Homo sapiens: one gene and its partners. The protein of the gene in region 1 purifies or fractionates together with the protein of each later gene. This does not show direct contact. Each region holds a gene or a part of one and is shown in the gene's direction. Other genes may lie near its edges. The genes, in order: MZT2B, ADGRG5, VIPR2 and TUBGCP6.

What was found.
Region 2: the proteins of MZT2B (region 1) and ADGRG5 purify together in Homo sapiens (co-immunoprecipitation; one large-scale study listed by IntAct). This does not show direct contact.
Region 3: the proteins of MZT2B (region 1) and VIPR2 purify together in Homo sapiens (co-immunoprecipitation; one large-scale study listed by IntAct). This does not show direct contact.
Region 4: the proteins of MZT2B (region 1) and TUBGCP6 purify together in Homo sapiens (affinity purification with mass spectrometry; 3 studies listed by BioGRID and IntAct, with this or other methods). This does not show direct contact.

Annotation. Positions count from the first base shown.
Region 1 is NC_000002.12:130,188,179-130,191,228, forward strand, and holds the end of MZT2B (mitotic-spindle organizing protein 2B), read left to right. Parts: intron 1-328; coding exon of another isoform or gene 329-408; exon of another isoform or gene 409-1,546; intron 1,547-2,290; coding exon 2,291-2,448; coding exon of another isoform or gene 2,449-2,513; 3' UTR 2,514-2,549; downstream 2,550-3,050. UniProt on the Homo sapiens protein: Required for the recruitment and the assembly of the gamma-tubulin ring complex (gTuRC) at the centrosome.
Region 2 is NC_000016.10:57,559,611-57,563,177, forward strand, and holds part of ADGRG5 (adhesion G-protein coupled receptor G5 isoform 1 precursor), read left to right. Parts: intron 1-2,445; coding exon of another isoform or gene 2,446-2,483; coding exon 2,484-2,547; intron 2,548-2,773; coding exon 2,774-2,849; intron 2,850-3,480; coding exon 3,481-3,567. UniProt on the Homo sapiens protein: Orphan adhesion G-protein coupled receptor (aGPCR). Ligand binding causes a conformation change that triggers signaling via guanine nucleotide-binding proteins (G proteins) and modulates the activity of downstream effectors, such as adenylate cyclase.
Region 3 is NC_000007.14:159,110,360-159,113,926, reverse strand, and holds part of VIPR2 (vasoactive intestinal polypeptide receptor 2 isoform 1 precursor), read left to right. Parts: intron 1-3,567. UniProt on the Homo sapiens protein: G protein-coupled receptor activated by the neuropeptides vasoactive intestinal peptide (VIP) and pituitary adenylate cyclase-activating polypeptide (ADCYAP1/PACAP).
Region 4 is NC_000022.11:50,220,976-50,224,542, reverse strand, and holds part of TUBGCP6 (gamma-tubulin complex component 6), read left to right. Parts: coding exon 1-32; intron 33-122; coding exon 123-211; intron 212-286; coding exon 287-402; intron 403-1,950; coding exon 1,951-2,089; intron 2,090-2,440; coding exon 2,441-2,515; intron 2,516-2,668; coding exon 2,669-3,567. UniProt on the Homo sapiens protein: Component of the gamma-tubulin ring complex (gTuRC) which mediates microtubule nucleation.

The DNA of each region.
Region 1 (3,050 bases):
GAAGGGAAGCCGACTCTGAGTCAGGCCCAAGTCTGCGGCCTGCCATGCTGCGTGCTGTGGGGAGCTGAGAGCGCATGGGCACCTAAGCACCCAGATTAGGCTGCGGCTACAGAAGATCTGACTCTGTCTGGCCTGGCCTGCGGAGGGACTGTGGCCTCAGAGGAGGATGCTGGCCCAGTGTGGGAGCTGCTGCAGGGTGGCGGGGCCCGTCTGCTCATGGAAGACAGAATCCTTGCCCCTTGACCAGTCAGTGGGGACTAGAATTATGGCAGTTTGTACCACAAGAGATGCGTGGTGGCTATTGTCTGCTTTGTGCCTTTTTCACGAGTCACTGCTGGGCTGAGGTGGCCAATCATCACCCACCACGTGTTCCTGACTGCGCTCCTCCTTGGCTCAGGGCAACCCTGACTCCATCTTTGTTGAGTCAAGTGTGACAAGCTGACAGAGTTCCAAGCATGACACCGCTGTAACCCTCACCACCACCAGGCAAGAATGAGCAAAGATCTCATTCTCTGAGGAAGAACTCCCCGGAAACTCAAAAGGAGGGCCGTCCTATCCCTGCAGGGTATGGGGAGAATTTTCTGGTATTAGCATAGAAAGGGAGCTGGAGGTACCTCTGGAAGAGCGGGGGTCCACGGCATCTCAGACACAGGAGTCTCTGCTTGTTCAGGGTGACAGATGGTGAAACAGAAATGACCTAATGGATCTCTAGACACCCGGTTGCATCTTTTCTCCAGGAATCCAGTTTCCCATTGCAGGGTATTTGACTACACTTGATAAGAGGCCAGGGAAGGACCAGGATTGAGGCTGGGTGTTCTGTTGGCTGAACCCTTGTCTGGAGTCACCCTAAAAGTGATGGCAGGGGAGTTCCTGCAAGGGACTGCCCCAAACCTTTCCAGGATGAGAGCCAGTTGGGATTCCAAAGGAAGAAACACTTAATGCCAGGGTGGTCAGTCCAAAGCATTTGTTAGGGAGCTTACATACAGAGGGGGCTGCAGTGTACCCTCACGAGGGACAGCCAGGAAAGAGGTTGTGCCTAGGCACACCGCACTGAGGGGGTGGGGTGTGGAGTTTCTATGAGGGTGCAAGGAATTTGGCTGGGGTGGGACCAGTTTCCACGTGCTTAGCAACATGTCAGATCTTTCAGTGTTCCAGGCAACAACCTAAACGTGTATCAGTGTCTGGTAACATGCAAGCCCCAGCCAGGGTTTGAGCCTGCAGGGGGAACATGTAGCTGATTAGGTCAGAGTAGTCAAGGCACTTCCTCAGTCAGGACAAAGGAAACACTGGGGGGATGAAATGGGGGACCCAACACTGAGTCAGGCAGGGGACACATGCCCTGTTTAGAGCCCACAGGCCAGACCCTGCCAGGCCAGAGCAGGGGAGAGCCCTGGCCAAGGCACTCCACATGGGGGTCTGTGACCCCACGGGCAAGCCTGCTACCCGGGCACGTTTGTACCTTGGAGGGTCCTCTCAGTCTTGCCGATGCTGTCAACACCCTGAGCCCAGGGAAATCCATCCCATTAAAATAAAGGTCTGGCCCAAGTGTGGTTGCAGATTTTTCTTGGCTATCTTAAAGAGTAAAGTAAGCAAATTACAAATCAAAGAAACTCTGAACCAGTGGTCTTCATCCAAGAGAGCCTCTGGTGGTCAGAAGGAAAGTCTCAAGCATTCAGACTGTGGCAGGAACCCTGTCATGGAATCTGGCAGCTAAACCCGAAAGCAAGAGGCTTGACCACTGCAGAACACTCGGGTAGGTAGGAAACAATGAAAGAGCTTCCAAAATCAAAATCAGAAACCCAATTCCAGGACTTGGTGACTGCAGTACTTCCTGCCTGTCACCATCTAGGGCAGCTCAGATGTGCAGTCCAGCATGAACACACCTTGAGGATGAGGCAGCGCATCCCTGCTGCTGCCGCCGCTGATGGCACCATCAGGGCAGACTAGGTTTGCTGACCAGGCTAGGTGTGGACCAGCACACCTACCTTTCCCTAAATGGGCCCGTGGCATGTGTCCTTTCAAAATGTTCCCTTGGCAGTGTGCTCCTTGCATGGCTTTGCTCCTAGGACACATCCAAAAGGGTCCCCTGCACACTGCGAAGGGCTTCTGGGGCGTGACCTGTCTTTAGTGGTTCTGAGTCTCAGGACTTGGGGCTGATGCAGGGCCTCTAGCTGAAGGGACTTTGATGGAAATGTGCAGACACAAATGTTGCCCAAGGACCACGAGTACAGCAGGTGCTGCAGTTACGGGGCACGCCCATTCCTAATCATTGTGCTTTGTGTCTCCTCAGGGAGAAACAAAGGCAGCGCTGCCCTCGGGGGAGCATTGGCCCTGGCGGAACGCAGCAGCCGCGAAGGATCCAGCCAGAGGATGCCACGCCAGCCCAGCGCTACCAGGCTGCCCAAGGGGGGCGGGCCTGGGAAGAGCCCTACACGGGGCAGCACCTAGGATGGGGCAGAGACTTGTTGCATCTTTGTCCCCAGCAAAGGCTACATGTTACCTCCTTCAATTGATAATAAACCTTTCTGAGATGCAGAGGGTCCAGGTCAGATGTTGTCTACCGTTTTTTTTTTTTGTTTTTTTTTTTATATTAAGGCACACTTAGAATGAAGTTTCTGTGCCGGTCCTGGTTGTGCCACAGTGAACTAACCAGGTCCCTTCACCATGGGTCAACTTCCTGAACCTGATTTGGGTTCTGAGAAAAGGCATCTGGATTGCCAGGTCTTTTATAAATAGACGTCAACAAGCTTCACTTGAAGTGAAATGTGGGAGGTTTTTTTGGTTTTTTTGAAATGGAGTCTTGCTCTGTCACCCAAGCTGGAGTGCAGTGGTGCGATCTCGGCTCACTACAAGCTCCGCCTCCTGGGTTCACGCCATTCTCCTGCCTCAGCCTCCCAAGTAGCTGGGCCTACAGGTGCCCATCACCACGCCCGGCTAATTTTGTTGTATTTTTAGTAGAGACGGGGTTTCACTGTGTTAGCTAGGTTGGTCTCGATCTCCCACCTCATGGGAGGTTTTCTACCAAGGCAGTTGACAGTGCTGAGGGACAG
Region 2 (3,567 bases), on another chromosome or scaffold:
GCAACTACCTATTCCTCTGTGCTCTGTCAAACATGAAACAGATCATGTGTTTCATCCATCAAAGATAATGTGTTCTAGTTACCTCCAGAAACCAGTTTGCTTGGTGGCCTGTGACCCCAGCTCTCCAGTAGGCTAAAAAAAAAAAAGATTTTGTATATTATTTGGCTTTCCCATTGTTATGATGGGAACAATACTCCCATCTGACTCTCTACTTTCTAGGTGGAAATCGAAATCATCTTAATATGGTTTTTACACAATTAAAAAAACTCCTGTTCAATGTTTCTATTATGACTATATGCATTACATTCCATATTAAATCATGTAGCGGCATTTCGTTTTCTTGTACAACTTGGTTTTCTTGAAATTAATTGCTTCTTTTTATTTTTGCATTTATAAACTTCGGTAAGACATCTCAAAAAACAATTTTTCTAGATGTTCAAACCTATTCGATAGTCTATCTACTCTCCTTTTCCTCTTCCTTATTTTTTTCTTGAAGACCTCCCTCCCAGGGCATTCTTTTCTCCTGCTCCCTCCGGATGGGAAATGCCCTAGTCCTGCTGTTCAGCATCAACCCGGGCCTTCCCTTCACACATTTTCTGGGGAGTAGCTTTACCTCTCCCATGGTAGGATACAGGGTTTCCTGTACCCTGTGTCTTCCTTCATGATATACTTTCTCATTTTGTTGGAGCACATCCTCCAGCAGCTTCTCAAGAAAGGATGTGTGTTTTGAAATTCTCAGTAATCCTTGGTTGACCATTCAAGAGAGGAGCACTAAAAACCTAATTGCTTGGCAGAGCTTGGTGACTGGTGAAATTTCACTGTAAGTTAGGTCTTGGCCATAACATTGAGGAACACAAAAATGGAAGTAGCTATAGGATACTATTCTTGGAATGGTTAGCTCCTCAGAGACTTTTCTCCTGCCTTGGGGCATAACCCTGGTTGCTGCAGTCTTCTGGAATCTGAGTGGGGGAGGATGTGGGGAGGGGATATTGCTTAATTCCCCCTTCTGTTCTGATTATGGTGCATCCTCTCTCCAGAGAGTAAACTTTGTGTGGAGCAGGATTGGGGATGGTAGGATGGTGAGGAAACTCCTGAATACTGGAGGTGGCAGGGGAGATCTGGGGACTGAGTTGGGCATTTTAAAGACTCACAACCAACAAACTCTGTTTTTATTTTTATTTTTTATTTTTTTGAGACAAGGTCTCATTCTGTTGCCCAGGCTGGAGTGCAGTGGTATGATTTTGACTCACTGCAGCCTCCATCTCCTGGGCAGGATCCACCTCACCCACCTGAGTAGCTGGAGACACAAGTGCAGGCCACCATACCCAGCTAATTTTTGTTTTCTTTTTGTAGAATCAGGGTTTTGCCATGTTGCCCAGGCTGGTCTGGAACTCCTGGTCTCAAGCGATCCTCCTGCCTTGGCCTCCCAAAGAGTTGGGATCACAGGCATGAGCCGCCATGCCTGGCCAACAATCGCTGTTTTTAGCCTCTTCCTTCATCCCCTCTTCAGAGGTTACTGATGCCCCCAGTTCTCAAGTGCTTCCAAGGTTGTGAGGCTTCTCCTTGTCTCCTGCCAACACCACACCTCTCCCCACTGCAGGCACTTGGGTTCAACTTTTTTTGGTCTGCTAAACGTCTTACCAGGTGCCACCTACTTGTAGCCTCCAAAATTTAGCTGACATCTCCCATCTCTGCAGTTGTTTTCTTTCCCATTGTTCTGTCTTTGTGCCTGTTTTCTAAGGAGTAGCTTTACCTCTCCCATGGTAGGGTACAGGGTTTCCTGTACCCTGTGTCTTCTTTCATGATTTACTCTCTCATTTTGTTGGAGCACATCCTCCAGCAGCTTCCTGAGAGGCTTTGTGCCTCCTTTCTTCCCCATTGTACTGTTTTTCATGCCTCTTTTCTTTCCCATTGTTCTGTGGCTTTGTGCCTATTTTATTCATTCCCTCTCATTTTAGTGGGGCTTTAAGGGGCAGACATAAATTTGCTCTATTGAAGCAGAAGTTTATTAGTTCATTTTAAAATGGAGGAAAATGAGGGCAGAGGAGAGACAGATCCTACCCAAAGCCGCACGATGAGTTAATGGCAGGGCTGGATGGGGTTTACCTGTTGCTTTCTCCCAAACACCGTCCCCCTGGGTAGAGACTGGGATCCTGGGGAAGCCCCCAGAAAGACTGCTTTTTGGGAAGGGGAGTGTATCAGGCGGAGCTGCTAATGGCAGCCATTACTTGGTGGTCAAGGATTCTGGAGTCTTAGAGACCTGGCTTTAGGCAGGTTTAAGTAAAGCAAGACCCTTTGCCCTTCATCCTCAGCTTCCTCATCTGTGAAATGCAGGAGTGGTGAGTCAAATAAGATGCTGCATGTCCTACTCTTGGGACATGCCAGACACCTAGAAGTTAGAGGTTGCTCTTTTATCATCATGGTGATGGCATGCACCTTTTTCAGGGCCGGAGCCAGTTCTTGGAGGAGACTCTGCACAGGGCATGGATCACTGTGGTGCCCTTTTCCTGTGCCTGTGCCTTCTGACTTTGCAGAATGCAACAACAGGTAAGGGGGCTCTGCTGAACTGGGGGCAGCCCTAGCCCAGTCGTGGGACTGTGATGCAAAAGGGGGAGGCGTCAAACCATGGGAGATTGAAAAGGGCCACTTAGGCTTCCTGGGGGCAGCAGGAGCTGCTTGTGAACTAGACTCTCAGGGTGGGATGGAAAGCCCAGAGGTTGTGGGGCCAGAGGGCAGTTGAGACACAAACTGAGGGGGAGGTGTGTCCCCACAGAGACATGGGAAGAACTCCTGAGCTACATGGAGAATATGCAGGTGTCCAGGGGCCGGAGCTCAGTTTTTTCCTCTCGGTGAGTTGGATGTGCCTCCCACCCCAAGCCTGCACCTTGAATCAGTGGGTCAGGGTTAGTCTAATGTAGACTCTTAACTGTGCATTTCTTCAGCACTTTTATTGAGCACCTACTGCATGCCTGACACTAGGCTCTGGGGATGCAGGATGGGCATGTCACTGCCCTCATGAAGTTTATCATCGAGGAATGGGGGCCCTTAATCATAGATGTCATGACACTAAGTGCAGAATTATGGGTCTCCATGCATTTTCCTGGGAAGGGGGTCTAAGATTCTGGCTGGGCTCTCCAGGGTCTATGACCCAAAGACTGAGCAGCTCTAGGTGAGCGGCCAATGCTGAAGACTGGTCAGGGCTAAGAGTGGCTACTGGGAAGCTGTGAGGGAGCAGTCAGGGAAGGCTTCCTGGAGGAGGTGACAATAAACTGGGACCTGAACAGGAGTTAATCAAGAGGAGGGGATAGATGGGGTAGGGAGGTAACAGTGTGCCAAGGACACTGTGTGTGCAGTGGTCTGGAGGTGCGTGTGACAGAGGTGTGGGTGGGGAGGCCCTGCCCTCCCAGGCTGTCTACAGCCCCCTCTCACCCTTACCCCACTCCGGGCTCTGGCCTCCCTGGCCATCTCTCTGGGCTGCAGTCAACTCCACCAGCTGGAGCAGATGCTACTGAACACCAGCTTCCCAGGCTACAACCTGACCTTGCAGACACCCACCATCCAGTCTCT
Region 3 (3,567 bases), on another chromosome or scaffold:
ATCTCTTCTCTGGTATTTATTTTATTTCTAAACAGCATACTTATGCTCCTGTTTCTTTTCTTTCTTCCTCCCAATTTACATCCCAGTGTCCATTAGATTTCTAACAAGAATAAAGATCTATCTCTCCTGTGCCATTCCCACCACCCAAGTATAATTTATCATCCTGCCAGCCTCCTGATAGACTCACTTCACATTGCTGGTGTACATCATTGCCATCACAGTTGAGCCACATAATATCCAGCATTTCCTTTCTTCATAACTTTATGCTTTTCCTCGTTTTTCTGTTGCTGGGTTTTTCACCTACCTCTCAATAATTAGGCATCAAACCTCAGGCCAGAACACTCTCAAGACACTGCACTGAGGTGGTCTCAGGGTTCCATTTTTTCTCTTGTAGCAGGACGAGCTGCAGACAAAACCCCTCAGACACCGAGATGGTGAAGGGAGTGGCTTTAATCAGCTGGAAGCATTGGCAGACTAGCGTCTTAAAATCCGAGCTTGTCAGGTGCACAATTTTTGTCCCTTTTAAGGGCTCACAACGCTAAGGGTTTCACATGAAAGGGTCATGATTGATTGAGCAAGCCAGGGGGTATGTGACAGGGGCTGCATGCACGGGTGGTCAGAGTGAAACAGAACAGACCGGGAAGTTTCACAGTGTCTTTCTATACAATGTCTGCAATCTATAGATAACATCAGTTGCTAGGTCAGGGGTCAAATTTTAACTACCAGGCTTAGGTCAGGCAGGTCCAGGCCTGGTGTCGGGTCTGGTTCCTAGGCGCTGGGCTACCTGCCTTTAGTTTCGCTTCTGTTTCCTTTTCTGAGTATAAAACAATCTAAAACAATGTGAGAGGGTCTGTCTCTCTTCTCTCACTCCTAGAGCCACTCCTTCTGGATTCCCCCTCCTTGCCAAGTCGGGATCCTTGAGCTGGGGTCTGGCCCCAGGCAGGCATTGTGAGCCTCCTGCTCACACAGTCGGGGTCCTCGGTTGGGGATCTGGCCCCAGGAAGGCGCCATGAGCCTCCTCCTCACGGTCAGGATCCGGTCCCAAGTAGGTCCCGTGAGTCTCCTCCTCACAGTCAGGGTCGGTCCCAGGTAGGCGCCGTGAGCCTCCTCTTCACAGTCGGGGCTCTCAGCCGGGTCCCGTCCCAGGCAGGCGCCATGAGCCTCCTTCTCACAGTCAGGGTCGGTCCCAGGTAGGCGCCGTGAGTCTCCTCCTCACAGTCAGGGTCGGTCCCAGGTAGGCGCCGTGAGCCGCCTCCTCACAGTCGGGGCTCTCGGCCGGGTCCCGTCGGTTCCCTGCAGCGTCCTCCACCCTTGCCGGTGCCGGGGGTACCGATGGCCTGTCTCTCGCTTCTCCCCCTCCTCTGCCTGCCTATTTAACACAGTTGCTTCTGTCTGCAAGGCTGTAGTGACATCTCTTGGTGCTGCCCTTTCAAATTTTTGGCTGTCCTTTGCGTGAGGTTGAGAAGCTGAGAGAGAAACTCCTGTGTTCCCGCCTGGCAGCTGTTGCCAGGAGGTTGCAGCCAGTGCCACGTGTGCGACCGGCACTGTGGCAGCGCTTCCGGCTGCGCCTTCGGCTGCACTTCCGGCTGCTACCTCAGCCTCGGCGCCCTGACGCCCTCGAGTCCGCTTCCTCACATCCTGACAGCGTCTAGCTCTGCTCCCTCACGTGCGGTCCAATAAAGGAACAAATGAAGAGAAGACTTTCCCTGGCCATTGAAGGGATCAGATGATTAGCTCTAGATGTTTAAATCAAATCCTACTGTAATGCAAAGACTGTTTGATGTGGTATGAATTTAGTATCTCTGTTGAAATTTAAAGCAGCAATTAGTATTATACAGTATATAATTATTGCATTATAATTTGTATTATGTATTAGTTATCTTACTATACATTATCTTATTTATTGTTTATTTATTGAGACGAGGTCTCGCTCTGTCGCCCGGGCTGGAGTGCGGTGCCATGATCTTTACTAACTGCAACCTCGACCTCCCAGGCTCAAGTGATCCTCCCACCTCAGCCTCCCTAGTAGCTGGGACTATAGGCATGCTCTGTTACCTCCAGCGAATTTTTAAATATTTTCTGTAGAGATGGGGTCTCGCTATGTTGCCCACGCTGGTCTTGAAGTCTTGGGCTCAAGGGATTATCCCGCCTCAGCCTGCCAAAGTGTTGAGATTACAAACATGAGTCACTACACCCAGCCCATTATTTTAAAATAACAATATTATATAATTATTGCTTTTTTTTTTTGAGACGGAATCTTGCTCTGTCACCCAGGCTGGAATGCAGTGATGCGATCTCGGCTCACTGCAACCTCCACCTTCTGGGTTCAAGCAATTCTCCTCCCTTAGCCTCCTGAGTAGCTGGGATTACAGGTGTGTACCACCACACCCGGCTAATTTTTGTATTTTTAGTAGAGACGGGGTTTCACCATGTTGGCCAGGCTGTTCTCACACTCCTGACCTCAAATGATCCACCAACCTCATCCTCCCAAAGCGCTGGGATTACAGGTGTGAGCCACCACACCCAGCCATTACTATTATCAAGGTAGAAATTTGTCATTTTGTGATAAAAAGCTGAACCTTCAAAATAACCAGACACGAAACTGCCAGAGCTTGCTGTTTTATAGGAGATGGACAGAACTTTGCTGATCACATGCAGAGTCTTCACTTGGAGGCCTAGACATCTTCACTTTCCTCTCCATCTTGTTCACTCTTGGCTAGGAACCCCATCCTGACACCTCTCCACCACCTGCCCTACACACCAGAGTTAGAAGTGCTTGGTTTACGAACTTAGCATTTAAATAACTCTACTACTTAGACTCTAAGCAGCCTTACACGGGGGCTCACGCCTGGAGTTTCTAGTGATGCATTTACATTTGATCACTTGTTTTGAACATTTTAAAAGAAAACCAACATTTTCTTTAAATATGTTAACATTAATGTAATATGAATTTATGTACTTATTCAAGTATTGGTATGTAATTTTATTTTATAATAAATATATTTTCACTTTTATTGAAAGTATTTAGAAACTATTTTCATCTGCAAAACTTAGCTTATGGCCAGCTTTTCAGAGACATTTCTGTATTCTTGAAAGTAAAACACTCCTTTGTTCACACCAAAGCTGTGTGTTCTCTATGGATGTATTCCTGCAATTATTGCACAGGTCTGGGTGGCATGTGCTGAAAGGAAAACTGATTGTTTGTTTGTTTGTTTGTTTGTTTGTTTGTTTTACCGACCAAGGCTAGCACATTGCTTTTCTGATACTGAGGTTTAAGTAAAAGGTAAAATTTTAGAGGTCTCAAATATAGTATAAATACCATGGACAAGTAGGAAAGTCCTGGGTTTAACATGCATTCCATCACTGTTGTGTGATATTGAGAATTCATTAAAAGATTTGAACCTTAGTGCTTTTCATCTGGAAGATAATTAATGCAACATTTTTATATCTAACCTTCACCAGGTGGTTATTAAGACCAAATAGTAGGTCTAAAAATGTTTAAGCTATGCATTATGCAAATTATTTGACAACTCCATGAAGGTAACCTAAGATTTTGTTGCTAATAAG
Region 4 (3,567 bases), on another chromosome or scaffold:
AGCAGCATCCAGGGTCCTGAGTGCACTGAGTGGTGAGTGGCCCCAAGTCCTCCCTTCTGCAGTTCCGGGGGGCCTTGCTGGGGCCTCCTTGTGACAGTGCGCCCCTTACTGTCCCAATGTAGACCGGCAGATGTCAGAACGGATGGCCTTGGATGCCCGGAAGCGTGAGCAGTTTCAGAGGCTGAAAGAACAATTTGTGAAGGACCAGGAGGTGGGTAGGACCTGTCCCTGCGGGGTCACGCCTGTCAGTTCTGATTTCACAGGCCAGGCTCTATGTGTTTTATAGCGACGCCAGGCGGCCAGGCAGGAGGAGCTGGATGATGACTTCAGCTACGCCCGTGAACTCCGAGACAGGGAGAGAAGGCTGAAGTCCCTGGAGGAGGAGCTGGAGAGGAAGGCGAGGTAGGGCAGCCCGGGCTCCAGGCCCAGGGGTGCAGTGCGGCAGGGGCCCCATAGCTCTGGCTTAATCTTACTGATGATTTTACTTTTTGTTTTGAAAACCTTCAAACATACATTAAGGTAGAAAGACCAATATGCTGAACCCAGAGTGGCTGTGGGCGTTCTGCCTTATCCAGGCATCCTTAGCTGTTCTGCGCGTTGTCTTGTGGTGGTTTGTATGGATTAGGGTCCAGGCGAGGCCTGCGTACTGTTTGGGGTCCTGTCTCTTTATTTATCTTCTTTCTGAACATCCTTCCTTATTTATTTTTAAGTCTGTTATTGGTCTGACAGAGACAGGGCGTTTTTTTTTTTTTTTTTTTTTTTGGAAACAGAGTCTTGCTCTGTCACCCAGGCTGGAGTGCAGTGGCACAATCTCGGCTCACTGTAACCTCCGCCTCCCAGGTTCAAGCAATTCTCCTGCCTCAGCCTCCTGAGTAGCTGGGGTTACAGGCATCCGCCACCACATCCAGCTAGTTTTTTGTATTTTTAGTACAGACGGGGTTTAACCATGTTGGCCAGGCTGGTCTCAAACTCCTGACCTCAGGTGATCCACCTGCCTCGGCCTCCCAAAGTGCTGGGATTACAGGCGCGAGCCACCGCGCTCGGCTGAGACAGGGCATTTGTCCAGCACAGCATCTGCGTCTGTCTCCCTGTGCTGTTATCAACCTGTCCTGTGCTGTCATCAGGCTGTCCCAGGCTGAGTAGTGCTGGATCCTTCAAGGGGCTGTTTGGGGTTTTGGAGAGAGCCCCTCACGGGAGGGGCTGGCCGCTTCCTGCTCAGCCCCACGCGATGCTGTAGGTCCCAACCTTAGATCTCTTTATGGAGCGAGTGAGGGATGTGTGTGGAGGGGTGCGCGTGCCTGTGTGCACGTGTGTCCGTGTATGCATTTATGCATGAGTACGTGTTCATGCATGTATGTCAGTCGATACTGTCCTGTTAACACATGGAGAAAACCAGGCCTAGACACTACGTCTCTGGCCTGTGGCAGCCAAATTAGAGCTGGCCAGTCCAGGTTTGAGCCCAGTTGCCTGCTGGTGAGAAGCTCAAAATCATGGGGCACGATCGGTGAAGCAGGCTTTGAATTCAGCAAATAAAGCGTTTGTGTTGGTTTTGCTTCATGTGCTTTTTTGCATTAGTTTTCAGTTCTCAGGTTTGTACCTGTAGAAGGGGAAGAGGCCTAACTTCTTAGAGGCCTGGGGCCCTCGGCCTCCTGCTCACCCCTTGCTTCAGGCCACACAGGATCTCATTCTGGTATTTGTCCAGCAGATGTTGCTGAGCCCTGGCTGGACGCTGACTCACCAGGGTCTCCCAGCCTGGCAGGTAGAAGGGCCTGCCTGGTGCTGCCCTGTAGGTGCTGTGAGGGCCCAGAGCTATCAGCCCCTGGTAGGGGGAGACGGGGGCGGGGGCCCACTGGGGCCTCTGTTATGGAGAACCATCCTGGCCTGAGGGGTGCCAGGTAGATGGGGTGGGGTGACTCTTGTGGCCGTGTCCTCTCTGGTGTGTGGCTTCAGGCAGGCACTGGTCGACCACTACAGCAAGCTCTCTGCAGAGGCAGCTCGTCGGGAGCAGAAGGCACTGTGGAGAATCCAGAGGCACCGACTGGAGAGTGCACGGCTTCGTTTTCTCTTAGAAGATGAGAAACACATTCAGGTATGTCTGCGGCTTCAGATGGCAGCTCTTCCCCTGGGCTTTGGGGGTCTGGAAACCCCCTGAGACTGCACACAAACCTACATGCTCTTCTAGGAGAGGGCTGGTGGCTTTCGCGTTTGCGGCAGAGCACTCTCTCTCCCCGTGTGCCACCAAATTGCACAGATACAGGTGGTGAGGAGCTCGTGGTTTTGGAGTACTTTTTGCAGGCCCAGCGTCCCACTGGAGCCCAGCACAAGCCTTGTCTGGTTCAGTGCACATGGCTGCCATGGGCGGTAGGGGCTGTGGCTTTGTGTGGGGTAGGGCTGTGCTTGACTCCGGCTTGGCCAGTCACCCCTCTGGCTTGAATTTCAGGAGATGCTGAAAGCAGTGTCTGAGGCTCACCAGCCCCAGGAGCCGCCAGACGTCCTCTTGAGCGTGCACCCCCAGGTAAGCGGCAGAGTGGAACCCAGGGTGCCCTATGGTTTTCCCATAGCCCTCGGCACCTGGTGTTGGTCATGGCTGCAGAGCTGAACTTGGGGGACAGTTCGAGGGCTGGGGGGTCCTGAGACCAGACTGGGTCTGATGTCACCTGTGTTTCAGGTCACGTCTCCGGGCCCTGAGCACCCAGAGGGAGGCCAAGGCTGTGATTCTGGGTCTGCAGAGCAACACTCGCCTGCCTGGGATGGCTGGAACAGGCCAGGCCTGCTGACCCCACAGCCCCTTAAGCCTCTAGCAGTGGGGGCTGGTGGCAGGGGGCTGCAGCAGGCGGAGGGGGCCAGACCCTTCTCTGACAGCCTCAGCATTGGAGACTTCCTACCTGTGGGCCCAGGGGCTGAGCCGTCCGTGCAGACTGGCATGGTCCCTCTCCTGGAGGTGGCGCTGCAGACCATTAACTTGGACCTGCCCCCCTCAGCTCCTGGGGAGGCACCCGCAGCAGCCAGCACTCAGCCCTCCAGGCCACAGGAGTACGACTTTAGTACTGTCCTGAGGCCAGCTGTGGCCACCTCACCTGCACCAGGGCCCCTGCAGGCTGCAGAGTGCAGCTTGGGCAGCTCAGGGCTACAGCTGTGGGAGGACAGTTGTGGGAAGATGGATGCCTGTGGCTCCGCCTCGCGGGAGACTCTGCTCCCCTCACACCCACCCAGGCGTGCTGCTCTGGAGGAGGGGAGCAGCCAGCCCACAGAGCGGCTCTTTGGGCAGGTGTCAGGGGGTGGTCTTCCCACAGGGGACTACGCTTCTGAAATAGCTCCCACCCGGCCACGGTGGAACACCCACGGGCACGTGTCTGACGCCAGCATCAGGGTCGGGGAGAATGTGTCAGATGTGGCTCCCACCCAGCCACGGTGGAACACCCACGGACACGTATCCAATGCCAGCATCAGCTTAGGGGAGTCTGTGTCAGATGTGGCTCCCACTCGGCCACGGTGGAACATCCATGGACATGTGTCCAACGCCAGCATCAGGGTCGGGGAGAATGTGTCAGATGTGGCTCCCACCAG